2 separate regions of the Homo sapiens genome follow, and region 2 is linked to region 1. Evidence: fine-mapped expression QTL. Tissue or cell type: sun-exposed skin. Region 1 holds a variant in brackets; the other region holds the start of a gene. All regions are shown on one strand. Distances are from middle to middle.

The links. PIP is the estimated chance that this variant, and not a neighbour inherited with it, causes the effect.
Region 2: WIPI2 starts here. The variant in region 1 is fine-mapped to the expression of WIPI2 in sun-exposed skin (GTEx, PIP 0.97).

The regions. Positions count from the first base shown.
Region 1 is chr7:5,230,356-5,238,512 of GRCh38, reverse strand. It overlaps WIPI2 (WD repeat domain, phosphoinositide interacting 2), which reads right to left. Exons shown (of 13, transcript NM_015610.4): 13 at 4,673-7,678. The coding sequence ends at 7,566. Among named protein-coding and RNA genes, the nearest start is that of WIPI2, 44 kb to the right of the region's middle. RefSeq lists a silencer at 3,781-3,840 and an enhancer at 6,407-6,556. The variant T/G (reference allele first, on the strand shown) is at 4,461.
Region 2 is chr7:5,185,462-5,193,629 of GRCh38, reverse strand. WIPI2 (WD repeat domain, phosphoinositide interacting 2) reads right to left here and starts at 3,397. Exons shown (of 13, transcript NM_015610.4): 1 at 3,137-3,397; 2 at 459-512. The coding sequence starts at 3,210. RefSeq lists silencers at 2,903-2,952, 2,963-3,612, 6,286-6,415.

The sequences.
Region 1 (8,157 bases):
ATTCCCTTGAGGAAAGGTGCTTCGCCGTCGCAGGGAGCCCAAGCACATTTCTGCGCTGACCCACTAAAAAGTAATGTCGCACAGGAAGAAAAAGCCACTTCTAAAAGCAGCAACAGGGCCGGGCGCAGTGGCTCACGCCCGTAATCTCAACACTTTGGGAGGTCGAGTCGGGTGGATCACCTGAGGTCAGGAGGTTTTTTTGTTTGTTTGTTTGTTTGTTTTTTGTGACAGAGTCTTGCTCTGTCGCCCAGCCTGGAGTGCAGTGGCGTGATCTTGGCTCACTGCAACCTCCGTCTCGCAGGTTCAAGTGATTCTTCTGCCTCAGCCTCCCGAGTAGCTGGGACTACAGGGGCGCACCACCAAGCCAGGCTAATTTTTTTTTCTTTTTTAGTAGAGACGGGGTTTCACCATATTGGCCAGGCTGGTCTCGAACTCCTGACCTCAGGTGATCCGCCCACTTCAGCCTCCCAAAGTGCTGGGATTACAGGCGTGAGCCACCGCGCCCGGCCGAGGCCAGGAGTTTGAGAACAGCCTTGGAAACATGGTGGAACCTCGTCTCTACAGAAACATGCAAAATTATCCAGGCTTGGTGGTGCGCACCTGTAATCCCAGCTACTCCAGAGGCTGAGGCAGGAGAACTGCTTGAACCTGAGAGGTGGAGGTTGCAGTGACCCAAGATCATGTCATTGCACTCCAGCCTGGGCTACAGAGCGAGACTCCCATCTCAAAGAAAAAAAAAATAAAATCAGAAGCAGAAGCTGTAACAGAAACAGAAATCAGCACAGGGAATAGTGGAGTCTTGTGTGTGTCCGAGGGATGACACGATGCTCAGCGTCTGCTCAGACAGACGGTGGCTGTGAGAAGCCCTGATGGGAGAGCTGCCAGCCTGGACAGCCGGCTGTGAAGACTCCACGCCAACCAACGTCCCGCAGGCCGCACGGAGATGGGCAGGACCGAAACACACAAGGCTTGGCCTTTGATGAAAAGGAACTCCCCAAGCCAGAAGGAAGTGTGTGATGAAGCAATTCAGCTCAGAGAAGGATGTGCTTCTAGAAGAATCGCCGCATCAGCACTATGTTTAAACTCACATGCTAATCCAAACATGGACCGGCAAGAACGCAGGCGGAACAGGTCCACCGTGTCCTGGCCCACGCACAAGCGGGCCAGCTGTTCCACCAACGCAATCATTCAGCTGCGGCGACACCCGGAGGGGCTCCCCTGTGTAATGCCCCCCACCCTGGGAGAGCTGGGTTTCTTTTTGTTTTCTTTTTTCTTTTTCTTTTTTTTTTTTTTGAGACGGAGGCTCACTCTGTCGCCAGGCTGGAGTGCAGTGGGCGATCTCGGCTTACTGCAAGCTCCACCTCCCGGGTTCAGGCCATTCTCCTGCCTCAGCCTCCCGAGTAGCTGAAACTACAGGCGCCTGCAACCACGCCCGGCTACTTTTTTGTATTTTTAGTAGAGACGGGGTTTCACCGTGTTAGCCAGGACTATCTCGATCTCCTGACCTCGTGATCCACCCGCCTCGGCCTCCCAAAGTGCTGGGATTACAGGTGTGAGCCACCACGCCTGGCCGAGTTGGGTTTCTTTAAAAGATTTTAGTCAGGCTTCTGGCATTTTGCTATAATATTCTAGGTAGAATTATAGGGCAATTTGGTACAAATTAGATGTTTAAGGCTGGGCTCGGTGGCTCATGCCTGTAATCCCAGTACTTCGGGAGGCCGAGGTGGGTGGATCACGAAGTCAGGAATTCGAGACCAGTCTGACCAACGTGGTGAAACCCCGTCTCTACTAAAAGTACAAAAATTAGCCTTGCGTGGTGGTGGGCACCTGTAATCCCAGCTACTCAGGAGGCTGAGGCAGGAGAATCGCTTGAACTTGGGAGGCAGAGGTTGCAGTGAGCTGAGATCGCACCACTGCACTCCAGCCTGGGTGACAGAGTGAGACTGTCTCAAAAACAAACCAAACAAACAAAAACAAATGAGATGTTCAGCCTGTGAGTAGGCAACAAAAAAATAGAACACAGGTTTTAATTTTAAGAGAGGGGGTCTTGCTATGTGGTCCAGACTGGCCTTGCCTCAAATTGCTGGTCTCAAGCGATCCTCCTGCCTTGGCCTCCCAAGAAGCTGGGATTATAGGTGTGAGCCACCACGTCCAATTCTTTAGCGTGTTATAAAATGCTGATAGCAATGGGCTTTCAGTCAGATTTGGTGGGGGAATGTAATCAGTATGTTCACCTGAAGCTCAGGCAGGCACACACACACACACTCACAGACACACACACACACACACATGCACGCACACTGGCAGCACCAAAAACAGCTTCACCTAAAATGAAGTGTTAAGAGGAATCTATTTACATTATAACTAACTATAGAAAGAAACGATGTAGAGGTGAGGAATCAAGACAGTCTCTTCACATTCTGAACTTTAGAAAGATTTCATTTTTCTTTTTTCTTTTTTTTTTTTTTGAGACAGAGCTGTGCTCTGTCACCCAGGCTGGAGTGCAGTGGCATGATCTCTGTTCACTGCAAACTCTGCCTCCCGGGTTCAAGCGATTCTCCTGCCTCAGCCTCCTGAGTTGCTGGGATTACAGGCACATGCCACCATGCCCATGTATTTTTAGTAGAGACGGGGTTTCACCATGTTGGTCAAGCTGGTCTCAAACGCCTGACCTTGTGATCCACCCGCCTTGGCCTCCCAAAGTGCTGGGATTACAATAGGCATGAGCCACCGCGCCCGGCCTCATTTTTCTAAATTAGAGACTTTCCTAGCTGGTTATTAGGGAAGGGTAAGAACTGGTCACATCTCAAAACCCTGAGATTGGTTTTGTTTTGTTTTTGTGCTTCAGAAAAACCCACAGATTGAAAAGGTATGACATAGGTGAAGGGTTATGACCTGGGTCAGAACTAAAAGATACGTCAGAAAAACCCTATCTGCTTGGCCAATGATTATCATGATATATTTTCAGTAAGAAATAAGTCATAAAAAAGAGAATTCTATGTAAAGCAGGGAGGCGACCCAAACAGAAGTCCCACGGTTTCCCTGCACGTTCTTTTTACATCTCCAACACCACAGAGCTGAAGCCGAACGGTCCCGCCTCTCTCTTAAGTACGCTTGTAAAATAACGCATTTGGATTTCCTGCTTGCTGGCCATGGTGTCACATGTCCGTTTCTTTTTCTTTTTCTTTTTTGAGACAGTCTCACTCTGTTGCCCAGGTGAGAGTGCAGTGGCATGACTCAGCTCACTGCAACCTCCACCTCCCGGTTTCAAGCAACTGTCCTGCCTCAGCCTCCAGAGTAGCTGGGATTACAGGCACCCACCACCACGCCTGGTTACTTTTTGTATTTTTAGTAGAGACAGGTTTTGCCATGTTGGCCAGGCTGGCCTCGAACTCCTGACCTTAGATGATCCGCCCGCTTCTGCCTCCCAAAGGGTTGGGATTACAGGCATGAGCCACCTCATGTACATTTCAAACAAGTGACTCGGTCATTCCCTGCATGCAAAGGTCTGGTCTACAAAGATGTAGGGCAGGGGACACACGAAACAACAAGCCTGGCCCATCCCCACCCTTTGCCAATGTGGTTATGAAAACCACGAGCAGCGGGGCGAGGTGGCTCATGGCTATAATCTCAGCACTTTGGGAGGCCGAGGCGGGTGGATCACTTGAGGTCAGGAGTTCGAGACCAGCCTGGCCAACATGGTGAAACCCGGTCTCTACTAAAAATACAAAAATTAGCCGGACGTGGTGGTGCGTGCCTATAGTCCCAGCTACTTAGGAGGCTGAGGGAGAATTGCTTGAACCCAGGAGGTGCACGTTGCAGTGAGCCGAGATCGTGCCACTGCACTCCAGCCTGGGCGACAGAGCGAGACTCAGTCTCAAAAAAAAAAAACCACAAAAACCCCCAAACAAAAAACTAAACCAAAAAAACCAGACGAGCAACAGGGATGAGCATGTTTTCTGCCACCCCTTGTCCCGTTTCCTTGGCTAAGCTGTGGCCAAAGCACTCCCGGCCTTTTACACATGGAGCCCACTGCTGGTTGTGGAGGTAGGAAGACTCCCTCTCTCCCCTCTCCAAATGAAACCGTGCGTGGGAAGAATCACCCAGTTCTCTCTGTGGCAGGGAACGGCAGCCATGGAGCTCCTGGGTCCCCTGACAGGGGCAGGGCCTGCTGTTCCAGGGCGCCCACCACCTCCCAGACCAGCTCGCACCACCTGCCCGTTAAGCTTGGTGTTGAGAAAAGGCGGGGATGAAAGAGACCCACGTGTAACCTCCATGTGAATTACACTTTTTTTTTTTGAGACAGAGTCTTGCTCTGTCGCCTAGGCTGCAGTGCACTGATGCAATCTTGGCTCCTGGCAACCTCTGCCTCCCAGGTTCAAGCGATTCTCCTGCTTCAGCCTCCCAAGTAGCTGGGATTACAGACGTGCACCATCCCCCGCCCCACCCCCCCAGCTAAT[T/G]TTTGTATTTTTAGTAGAAATGTCGTTTCACCATGTTGGCCAGGCTGGTCTCGAATTCCTAACCTCAAGTGATCCGCCCACCTTGGCCTCCCAAAGTGCTGGGATTACAGGTGTGAGCCACCGTGCCTAGCCTCTGAATTACACTTCTTACCCGTATTGTCACCTCCCTCCCGCCTGGCTTATTCAAAAACCAGAACTGAATAAAAATCGTGTTTAATTGCAGAAGACACATTTATGTTGTAGCGTTTATTGGGTGCCCACCGCTGGCTGGGCACCGAGCTGGGCGTTTGCAGGACACGCAGTCACACAACACCTCACAACAGCCCTGTGAGGTAGGGATGAGTCCCATGGAACGGTCCAGAAAACGCAGGCTCCCAGGCGCCCTGCCTGCTCCCACAGCTAGGCAGGCGGTACAGCGGGGACTGAAGCAGTTCTTTTTGACTCCAGGTTCCATCCAGCTCTTGGTCCCATTGTTTTAGAGATTACAGAAGGTTTGGTCCCAGAGTCCACTGAGCCCATTCACAACGTTTACAGGTTTTGTTTCCTATCCCCCACGCTCATCGTCCTTTTTGAAGTTTGGAAAAATACAATTTAAAAATGAATATGAGTGTACAGTTTGGAGTTCGGAAAATTAGCACACGTTCTGTTTGGTTCAGGGTCCCTCTCCACCTGGGTCACTGGCGCAGCAGTAAGAGTTCTAACGGGCAACTCAGCGGCCTCCCTCTGTCCCCGTCACTCCTGAGCATGTCTGAGGCCGCCAGTGAGGCTGGGACTCATAGGTTCGAGCAGAGGAAGAGGAGCTGGTGGCAGTGAAATGGGCAACGGGAAAGTGGAGGCGGGTAACCCTCCACAATGGCTGCTCAGCAAACACAGAAATCCTCTTCATTCTTCTCGACCAAGAATCTGCAGTCCTCCTCCCTCCTCTAGGGCGCACAGCTTAGCCCTGACCCAGGCAAGCACAGGGCTTCCCGTGGTCTGCAGGGAACGCACCTAGCCAGCCCTGCCAGGGCCACCCAAGGGGGAGTGTGGGCCGAGGGTCACAGGACGTCCGAGGCCTCCTCTGCAACTGCCTCATCTTACAGTGCGGGAAGCCGAGGCTGAGCGAGGAAGACAATTCCCAGCATCTTCTATACTACCAATCCCAAAGAAAGACAAAAGAGACCTGGCAAAGGAAATTTGAGTCTCCAAATCACCACCACAGGCAGGCACCAGAACAAACGATACTTTAACGCAGAACTGGAAATGCAGCTCACTCTTTGGTGACAGGAAACCCTAGCTCAGGGTTCCGTATCTCTTGTGCACACTTTTTCCCCCCACACTCACTCTTGCCAAAAGTGGCTCCCAGGAGATGGAGTGCACGGTCAGGTTCTAGAGAGAGCCCTCTGGCCTTGCACCACAAGACGCAGGCGTGGGTCAAGGCTGCGTGCTGCCGCGGCCCTTCTCATCCCTGCTCAAGCATAGCCCACTCTGGCCTCGGCGGTCCCCACTGTCTCAGCCTGCGTGACCGGGATCCCATTTCATCAAAGGTCCAGGACAGACAAGCAGGTTTTGAAGGAAAAGTTCAATCAGCCCACTTGCACCTCTGCCTAATGCAGATGTTGTGTGTGCCGCACACCAGCGGCTGGGAGGAAGCCGGTGTAGGTGAGTCGGACTCCAGCGTCCCCTGCATTTAGTTTGCCGTAAAGCCAACCCAGGAACACTGGGGCATTTCACCGCAGCCGCTCAGCTGAGGGGACAACTCCCCTCCAGCTCTTCGCCCAGCGTGACCATGACAACCATCTGGAAACAGGCGTCCCAGCCTTCCTCGGTTCAAAAACCCCAGCCTGCAAAGGCAGGGTAAATAGTTTTTGCCTTTTCCCTTCTATCCGTAACTTCCACCACTCCATAGATTCTAAAACCATCTCTCCTGCCATTAATGCCACTTAAATGCCCTCGACACTTTGGCTGCTGGGTGCCTTGGTTTGGAATGCAGAGTCTGAGGTACTTGAGGTTGTTTTAATTCTGTAAATATGAAAAGGGAAGGGAAGCGAGGCAAATACTGAAGCTTGCAACCACAATCTCTCATCGGTTTGCTGAGGAAATTTTCTAAGATGAAAATAGAAAGGCACATGACGCCCTGTGAAGGACGTGGCCCAGCCGCCTACTCTCTGTTGCTGTCTCCCGCTACGACCTCTCACACAGGTAGGAAGCCCCTGCGGACAGCGGGGCCAGCGAAAGGACAGCTCAGACGGCCACCACACTTGAGTTCTGTGCTTTCCTGGGCATGGGAGGAGCTACAAACTTTACTTAAAAAAAAAAAAAAATCACACAGTTTTTCAACAGGAAGAGTGAAGTAGAAGAACAGATCATTTAATTATACAAACAAAATCGCTTTCCTTTGCTCCAGCGAGTCCAGGCAACCTTTCAAGTTCATTTGCTGCCTGAAAGAAAGGTTTTTAGTATCAGAAAGAACCTCGCTGTCCTCCAATATCCACAGGGAAAACAAGATCAGAAACAAAAGTCCACCATGGAAGAAATCCCAGAGCGATCCAATTTGGAAAGAATTTAATTAACAAAATAAAACGGAGGGAAAATGGTCCAGGTGGGGCCCTAGGGAGATCGGACTTCTGTCCCAGCTGAAGTCTGCCCAGCACACCTGGTGGGCAGCCCCTGGGCCTGTCACTGCAGAACTGGCCTTGACAAGCAGACCCACTGTGCGCGACGCCACGGTTTCCTTACGCACTCGGCATTATGTACAGATATGAAAAAACCCAACGGCAGGTGGCTGGAAAGTGGCTTCTAGCTCCCCTATGCTGGCTTGGCACGTTCATGCATGCAAAGCGAGGAGGTTTTGCGGGCTTCACCAAACAGTTAATTTTGGCAAAAAGAGAAAACAAACAAACAAAAAGCTAAAATTCATAAGCAGGATTTAAAAGCCACTGAAGTGAAAATGATGTATTTCCTCAGCGTTATGGAGTTAGACTACCACTACAATCTTTTTTTTTTTTTAATAAAGTCTCTGCCATCCTCTCCCCCGACTCAGGTCAAAGTTCATAGCAGCAATGCACAAAGTCCTCTGTGAAGCCAGTGTTCTCTGCTCCCCGGGTCAGAGGTCACAGGTCAAGTTCAGTCAGTCCGAAGAATCATGGGCGGGTGCTCGCTGTCCTCATCCAGGCGCAGGGCGCTGGCCTCGTCCTCCAGGCAGGCGCCACCCACAGCACCCAGGTCGTCTGTGTAGGCTGCAAAGAGACGACGAAGTCACCCTTCAAAGGCTGGGGACACACCACAGACCCCATGACACACACTGAGGACTGTGTTTTGGAAACACTGGTGTATATTTATAAACTGAAGCCTGTACTAAGACGTTCTGAATTCTGATTGCTTTCTAATGAACTCTTTGCAGCCTTAGGCAGCTCGAGATGAAGTCATTTGTTCTCTGACATTCATAAATGTCAAAATGATGCCTGCACAGTAAACAGAGGCTCCCTCATGGACGGGCCACAAACTCTCTCAAGCTGGTTAAGAGCTCAAAAATAACACCAGGAAAAAAAATGACACTAGGAGACTCTCAGGGTGGGCTCATGAACTGGAAGTGCCGGTTCACAGATGGGAGTGGCAGCGAGCAGGCACAGCCCTGCGTGGGTGCAAAACCACAGGCTCTCCCACTGGAGTGCGAGTTGGCTTTTTTAAGAAGGTGGCTCACATAGCCAAGGCTGTG
Region 2 (8,168 bases), 45 kb after region 1:
ATGCCACTGCACTTCAAACTGTGCAACAGTGAGACTCCATCTCAAAAACAAAAACCCAAACCCTTGATTTACAGATGAACAAAGAGAGGAGAGCAGTACCTTCCCAGCACAATAAGCATAACCTAGAAGAGACATGGTGGAAGAAAACAACAGGTTTCTCCTGTTGTCTCCACACACTTCATAACATCAATTCTACAAACACAAGACTTGGAAAGTCAAGTCCCTTTCTTCATTCCATCCCTTTTAGACATGGCATTTAAAACAGACATTGCTACATCACTAACTTCCCACAAGCTGTGGTATCCACTGGAAAAATGTAGTCCTTGATATTTCCATTTCAGATTCAAGTGATCCTCTCCCACTTATTAACTGGTTCACTGCAATTTCAAAAAGCCAAAAAAGTCCTCTAACATAAGCCTTCCAAGGTGATACTTTCAGAAACCAGGGTTGGAACTAACCAGACAACAGCGCGACGGCCAAGACCAGCTGCTCTTGATGCCCCTTTCACTTCTCTAGGTAAAAAAACAAAACAAAACAAAAAACAAATGGTAAAAAACAAATAAAACTTATGCACACTTTTAGGATAGGAATCATGAAAAAGTACGACATTGGAAATCATATTACCAGTAAAGAAAGGCAGGACAGTTATAGTTTGGTATGTAACAAATACAAAAAGAATTTAAAAGACAAAAAAAAGGGAAATGACCCTATAACATATATATTCTAGTAAGTGAACTGGCTTCCAAATTTTCTCACTGCATACAGTAAATGTGAGTTCTAGACGGTCATTCTTTCACTTGCTAAAAATTGTGCTCCTCAATAAATTCTGGAGATTAAGAAGGGAGGAAAAGGTATAAGCCATAAAAGCTCTCTCCGGGAACTTCTCTATTTCTTTCAAGTGTAGATTTAAAACAAATTACCGTCATTTTAGCCCAGTCAACTTCTAGTATAATCCTAGCTTACTATTCATTCCAATTTAGGTTTACACTACATCAAGGTCTCTCTGGCAAGTCAAAGTTATGAAATCTCAAAGTAACAGAAATCTCTTGAACTGTAATAACTTCGGGGAGCATGGAGAAGTGGGTAAGTGTGAAAATGTCCAAGTGTGAAAAGGTCCTATTTCAGGCCAGAGTGACACTCTTCTGTGACACAGGGAACATGGCAGTCCAGCTGAAGTAACAGTAAAAGAGAATGCTTTTCTCTATTTGATTTCATTCTGATAGAAATAATTAGTGAAAAACTGAAAGAGTGGCCGACAATGTTTTGGAAACTCTCTAATTTATACAAGGCATAAACCACCCTACTACTACTACCATTTCTTACTGGTCTCAAAATACTGTGGCCTTGGGCTTAAAAACCAAATTAGAATTGGTTTGGGATGTGTCCTTTTCCCTATCTGGATTAACATAGTCTATTCCACTTGAACTGCAACAGGTTGTCCGAATTGTTTGTTGTTCTGGCTTTTGGTCACACAGAACGCTACAGTACTTGGGAGTTTTCATCTTTACACGTTGTTATGCTATTATTTCTAAATTCACTGTCTTCAGAATTCTACTCTGTAAACAGAAAAAAAAACAGCATGGCAGAGCAGAAAGAACATTGGAAGAGAGCTCAGGAGGCGAGATTCCACTCCTGCCCCCGCTCCACTATTAACCAATTCCAAAACCCAGACCAGCTTGGAGCCTTTCGGAAGGATTTCCTCATCTGTAGTTGGATGAGGTGATTTGCCCCTTCCGACTCTCAATACAGTCCCACTGTGCGACTGTCTTCACAGCTTTGGGGAGGTGCTATTGAGTGCCTGCTGTACACCACCCACTGAGTGTTGTCCATTCTACAATTCACTTTTAATTTCCTAAAGAATCTTACCTTCTGCTATGTTAATTCCACTCAGCCAGTAACAACTCAACCAATGACTTAGTAAGATGCCAAATGCCCCACTCCTTCTCTTTCCTCACTTCCTCTTACTCACTTCCAAGATGGCTCTCCTCCCTGCCAACCCCATAACTCACCCTTCTCTCTCCAGAAAGCTCGCTCATCTATTAACCATCCCCACAAGTCCTCCTCCCAGGCAGCATCCAACCCGTATCAGTGGGGACAAACAGCGTTCCGAATGCACGGGCTGGCATTAAGGCCTTCTCTTGCCCTGAGGATGACCCACCCGCTGGAGCTCTGAGACTCCTGGGGCACTGGTCCGTAACGCCTCTCTTGGCTCAGTTTCTCCCTAGCTAGGTCAGATGCCAAGGTTATTGCTAAGTTTGTTACTTGCTGGAGAAGACATCAAAGTTGATGTCCCAAAAAGAACAGGGAGGGCCGCGCACGGTGGCTCACACCTGTAATCCCAGCACTTTGGGAGGCTGAGGTGGGCGGATCACTTGAGGTCAGGAATTTGAGACCAGCCTGACCAACATGGTGAAACCCTGTCTCTACTACAAATACAAAAAAGTTAGCTGGGCACAGTGGCGCGTGCCTGTAGTCTCAGCTACTCGGGAGGCTGAGGCAGGAGAATCGCTTGAACCCAGGAGGCGGAGGTTGCAGTGAGCTGAGATGGCACCACTGCACTCCAGCCTGGGCAACAGAGCAAGACTCTGTCTCAAAACAAAACAAACCCCAAAAAACAAAAACAAACAAAAAAACAGTGAGAAACGAAGAAAAGAAAATCAAGAGAGAGAGAAGGGTCTTAAGACGATGAAAAGACAAGGAGAAGGGCCTGATTCAAAGGAGAGTGAGTGGGAGACGCTGAGCAAGCAGCGGGAAGAGGAGACGAGAGGAGAGGAAGCGACCCACACCCAGCGCTCCACAGGCGGCCAAGACAAGTCAAGCCCCAAAGTTCGGCCCCAACTTTGCGAGAAGTAGTTAAGTCTGAAGCCAGGGGGCCTCCCCGCAAGAGGGTGAAAGCAGCCCCCTCTCCACCACCTCTCCCGCTCCGGGACCGCAGCTCCAGGCCAGCACCCGAGGGTCTCCCTGGAGGGCGCCCCTCCCTGCACGCCCCGGGCCCGCCCCTGGGGACGCCTCTGCGCGCCTTGGCCCGCGGGGAGGCCGAGCCTGCGACGCCGCCGAGCTTGGCAGCGAGGCCCTCCCCCTAGCCCGGGTCCGACCCTGGCCTCACCCCGACTCCGACCCCCGACCCCGGCCTTACGTGTTGTCCTGGTTGAAGTTGGCGAAGAGCAGCTGGCCGGCGCCGGCCTCCCCGCTCTGGCTCGCCAGGTTCATGGCTGGGCGCGCGGCGAGTGGGCCCGGCCGGGGAGGGCGCGCGCGCGAGGGCGGGTCAGGCTGCACTCAGGGTCGGCGCCGGGCCCCGCTCGCCGCCTCGGTCGCCGCCACTCGCCACCCTGGGATCAACCGCCGCCTCATCCCGTCCCCGCTCTTGTTTATGCTCCAGAGCCGGGGCACCCGGTACGCCTGCGCGGCCCCGCCCCCGCGACGCACGGCCTCGAGCGGCGCAGTCGCACTGCGGAGGCCCCGCCCTCTCACCGCCTGCCTGGGCTTGGGTTCCGGTGGATCACGCAGGCGTGGGGACGCGTCGGGGCGCGCTGGGCCTGGCTGAGGGCGAGCGGCGGCCGCTCATGCGCATGGGGCAGAGCTGGCGGGAGTCTGTTTTCTGCGTACCCTCCTCTTAATAACACTCAATGGCCAGGCACGGTGGCCTGTAATCCCAGCATTTTGGGAGGCCAAGGCGGGCGGATCACCTAAGATCAGAAGTTCGAGACCAGCCTGGCCAACATGGTGAAACCCCGTCTCTACTAAAAATACAAGAAAAATTAGCCGGGCTTGGTGGTGTACGCCTGTAATCCCAGCTACTCGGGAGGCTGAGGCAAGATAATCGCTTGAACCCAGGAGGCGGAGATTGCAGTGAGCCGAGATCATGCCACTGCAATCCATCCAGCCTGGGCCATAGAGCGAGACTCTGTCTCAAACAACAACAAAAACAAAAACAAAAACACCCCAATGGGCCCTCCATGTGCCAATCACTGTGCTGAATGCTTCTGCGCATTACCTTATCATTTTATTATTTTGAAAGACAAGGTCTCGCTCTGTTGCCTAGGCTGGAGTGCAGAGGCTCAATCACAGCTCACTGCAGCCTCAAACTCAGGCTCAAGCGATCCTCCCACCTTAGCCTCCCAAGTAGCTGGGACCACAAATGCATGCCACCACACCCTGCTAACTTTTAAGTTTTTTGTAGAGATGGGGTGGGGGCGGGGGGGGTCTTACTCTGTTGCCTAGGCTGGTCTCGCACTCCTGGCCTCAAGTGATGCTCCCACCTCGGCCTCCCAAAGTACTGGGATTACAGATGTGAGCCACTGTGCCCAGCCACATTATCTTATTTGATGCCCATTACAATCCTAAGTAGAGAATAGTATATCTTAATTTTACAGATTTGAAAATCGAGGCTCAGAAATAATTATTAGCCAAGTGCTAGATCTGAGACTGGAAACGTCCTGTTTCTCCAAGGTCCATACTGTCTGGGTTCCTGGGACAGAATCGTCCCTTAAATTTATTCATTCATTCAACAGTATTTAGGACGCACCTCTCATGTGAACTAAATAGGCCTCCTCCTTTCCCTCAGAGAAGTTATAATGGGGAGATATTTAAATATAAATAGAAGGCCAGGTGTGGTGGCTCTTACCTGTAATCCCAGCACTTTGGGAGGCTGAGGCGGGTGGATCACCTGAGGTCGGGAGTTCCAGACCAGCCTGGCTAACATGGTGAAACCCCGTCTCTACTAAAAGTACAAAAGTTAGCTGGGTATGGTGGTGGGCACCTGTAATCTCAGCTACTAGGGAGGCTGAGGTGGGAGAATTGCTTGAGCCCCACAGGTGGAGGTTGCAGTGAGCCGAGATTGCACCTCTGCACTCCAGCCTGGACGGACGACAGAGTGAGACTCCATCTAAAAAGTAAAATAAAATAGGCTGGGCATGGTGACTCACGCCTGTAACCCCAGCACTTTGGGAGGCTGAGGCAGGTGGATCACCTGAGGTCATGAGTTTGAGACTAGCCTGCCCAACATGGTGAAACCCTGTCTCTAGGAAAAATGTAAAATATTAGCCAGTTGTGGTGGCACGGCCCTGTAATCCCAGCTACTCAGGAGACTGAGATGGGAGAATTGCTTGAACCCAGGAGGTGAAGGCTGCAGTGAGCCGAGATCATGCCACTGCACTCCAGCCTGGGCGACACAGTGAGACTCCATCTCAAAAAATAAAATAAATAAATATAATTAGAAACTCGGGGGTACAATGAGCGAATATATATATATATATATATATATATATATTTTTTTTTTTTTTTTTTTTTTTTTTGAGACGGAATTTCACCTTCTTGACCAGGCTGGAGTGCGATGGCGCAATCTCGGCTCACTGCAACGTCCACCTTCCGGGTTCAAGTGATTCTCCTGCCTCAGCCTCCCGAGTAGCTGGGATTACAGGTGTGCACCATCACGCCCAGTTAATTTTTGTATGTTTAGTGGAGACGGGATTTCTCCATGTTGGTCACGCTGGTCTCGAACTTCCGACCTCAGGTAATCTGCCTGCCTCGGCCTCCCAAAGTGCTGGGATTACAGGCATGAGCCACTGTGCCTGACCATGAATGCATATATAGAAGTCACACAACCTATATTTAAGGGACAGGGACTGTGCTATTGAGAAGGCTCCTGGAAGAGATGAGACCTGAAGTTTGAGTAACTAGTCTAAGGGCATGAAAACACTCTATATGGGAAGGGCTTGAGGATGAGGGTGTGACCTGTCCAAAGAACTCTATGTTCAGAGTGGAAAGGCAGACACAAGGCAAGATTTGGCAGGAGAGACAGGAGGTGGCCAGATCAAGCTGCGTATTGTTACGCAAGGAACTGACCATTATCTGATTATTGTCCATAAGAGCAATGGTCTGCCGTTAAAGACAGGCAGGAAAGTGGAACGATCTAATGAGTGCTTACAGAAGTTAATTCTAATTATAGGGTCAAGAACGCATTGGAAATCATTGAGGAAAGGATGGTCTTTTCAATAAAAGGAATAAGTACCCCTACCTCACACCATATTCAAAAATTAATTTGAGATGGATTACAGTCCTAGATGTGAGAGGTAAAAACAATAGAATTTCTAGAAGGAAACGAGAATGCCTTCATGATTTTGGGATAAACAAAGTAGTCTAAACAGGTACTTTAAAGCGGATGTGTTGGCTCATGCCTGTAATCCCAACACTTTGGGAGGCTGAGGCAGGCGGATTGCTTGAGTCCAGGAGTTTGAAACCAGACTAGGCAACATGGGGAAACCCGGTCTCTACAAAAATACAAAAATTAGCTGGGCGTGGTGGTGTGCGCCTGTGGTCCCAGCTCCTTCAGAGGCTAAGGCGGGAGGATGGCTTGAGCCTGGGAGTTCAAGCCTGCAGTGAGCTATGACCGCGCCACTACACTCCAGCCTGGGTGACAGAGCAAGATCCTGTCTCAAAACAAAACAAGTTCTTTAAAAAGTAGTAACCACAGGCCGGGCGCGGTGGCTCACGCCTGTAATCCAGCATGTTGGGAGGCCAAGACAGGCAGATCACGAGGTCAGGAGATCGAGACCATCCTGGCTGACATGGCGAAACCCCGTCTCTACTAAAAATACAAAAAATTAGCCGGGTGTGGTGGCTGGTGCCTGTGGTCCCAGCTACTCAAGAGGCTGAGGCAGGAGAATGGCGTGAACCCGGGAGGTGGAGGTTGCAGTGAGCTGAGATCGCACCACTGCACTCCAGCCTGGGTGACAGAGCGAGACTCTGTCTCAAAAGAAAAAAAGTAGTAACCACAAAATGAGAGATTGGCCTTCATCAACATTGAGAAGAATGGGCTATTTTCAAGAGACCATTAAGAGAGGAAGAAAAGGCAAGATTTAGAGATACATATATTTATTTTATATATATATATATATATATATATATATATATATATTTTTTTTTTTTTTTTTTTTTTTTTTTTTTTTGAGACGGAGTCTTGCTCTGTCACCAGGCTGGAGTGCAGTGGTGCGATCTCGGCTCACTGCAACCTCTGCTTCTAGGGTTCAAGCGATTCCCCTGCCTCAGCCTCCCAAGTAGCTGGGACTACAGGCGTGTGCCACCACACCAGGCTAATTTTTTGTGTTTTAGTAGAGATGAGGTTTCACTGTGTTGGCCAGGATGATCTCAATCTCCTGATCTCGTGATCTGCCCGCCTTGGCCTCCCAAAGTGCTGGGATTACAGGCATGAGCCACCACGCCCGGCCTGCAATATATATATTTTTGACAAAGGAATTATACCCAGAACTTCTGCGCATCAATAAGAAAAATATAGACAGCTTTTTTTTTTTTAACTGGGCAAAATACTTGAACACAAGCACTTCACAAAAGAGGATATCAGAATGTTAATGAGCACCTGAAAAGGTGGTCATCGTTAATACTCATTAAGAAAATGTAAATTAAGGCTGGGTGTGGTGGCTCACACCTGTAATCCCAGCACTTTGGGAGGCCAAGGTGGGAGGATCACCTGAGGTCAGGAGTTCGAGACCAGCCTGGCCAACACGGTGAAACCCTGTCTCTACTAAAAATACAAAAATGAGCTGGGCCTGGTGGTAGGCACCTATAGTCCTAGCTACTCGGGAGGCTGAGGCAGGAGAATCGCTTTAACCTGGGAGGCAGAGGTTGGAGTGAGCCGGGATCACACCACTGCACTCCAGCCTGGATGACAGAGCAAGACTCCATCTCAAAAAAACCAAACAAACAAACAAAAAAAGAAAATGCAAATTAAGGGCAAATGAGGTATTACTAAGCATCCACCAAATTGGCTAAAATTAAAGCAACTGACAATCCCAAGTGTGGATGACCATAGAGCGCAATTGGAACTCTCATACACTGTGGATGGAGTCTCGCTCTGTTGCCCAGGCTGGAGTGCAGTGGCACGATCTCGGCTCACTGCAAGATGAAAGTCTAAATTGTTTCAACCACTTTGGAAAACTTGGGCACTACCTACTAAAGTTTTGTTTTTGTTTTTTGTTTTTTTGTTTTTTAAATGGAGTTTTGCTCTTGTCGCCCAGGCTGGAGTGCAGTGGCACAATCTTGGCTCACTGTAACCTCAGCCTCCACCTCTTAGGTTCCAGCGATTCTCCTGTCTCAGCCACCCAAGTAGCTGGCATTACAGGCACCCACCACCACGCCCGGCTAATTTTGGT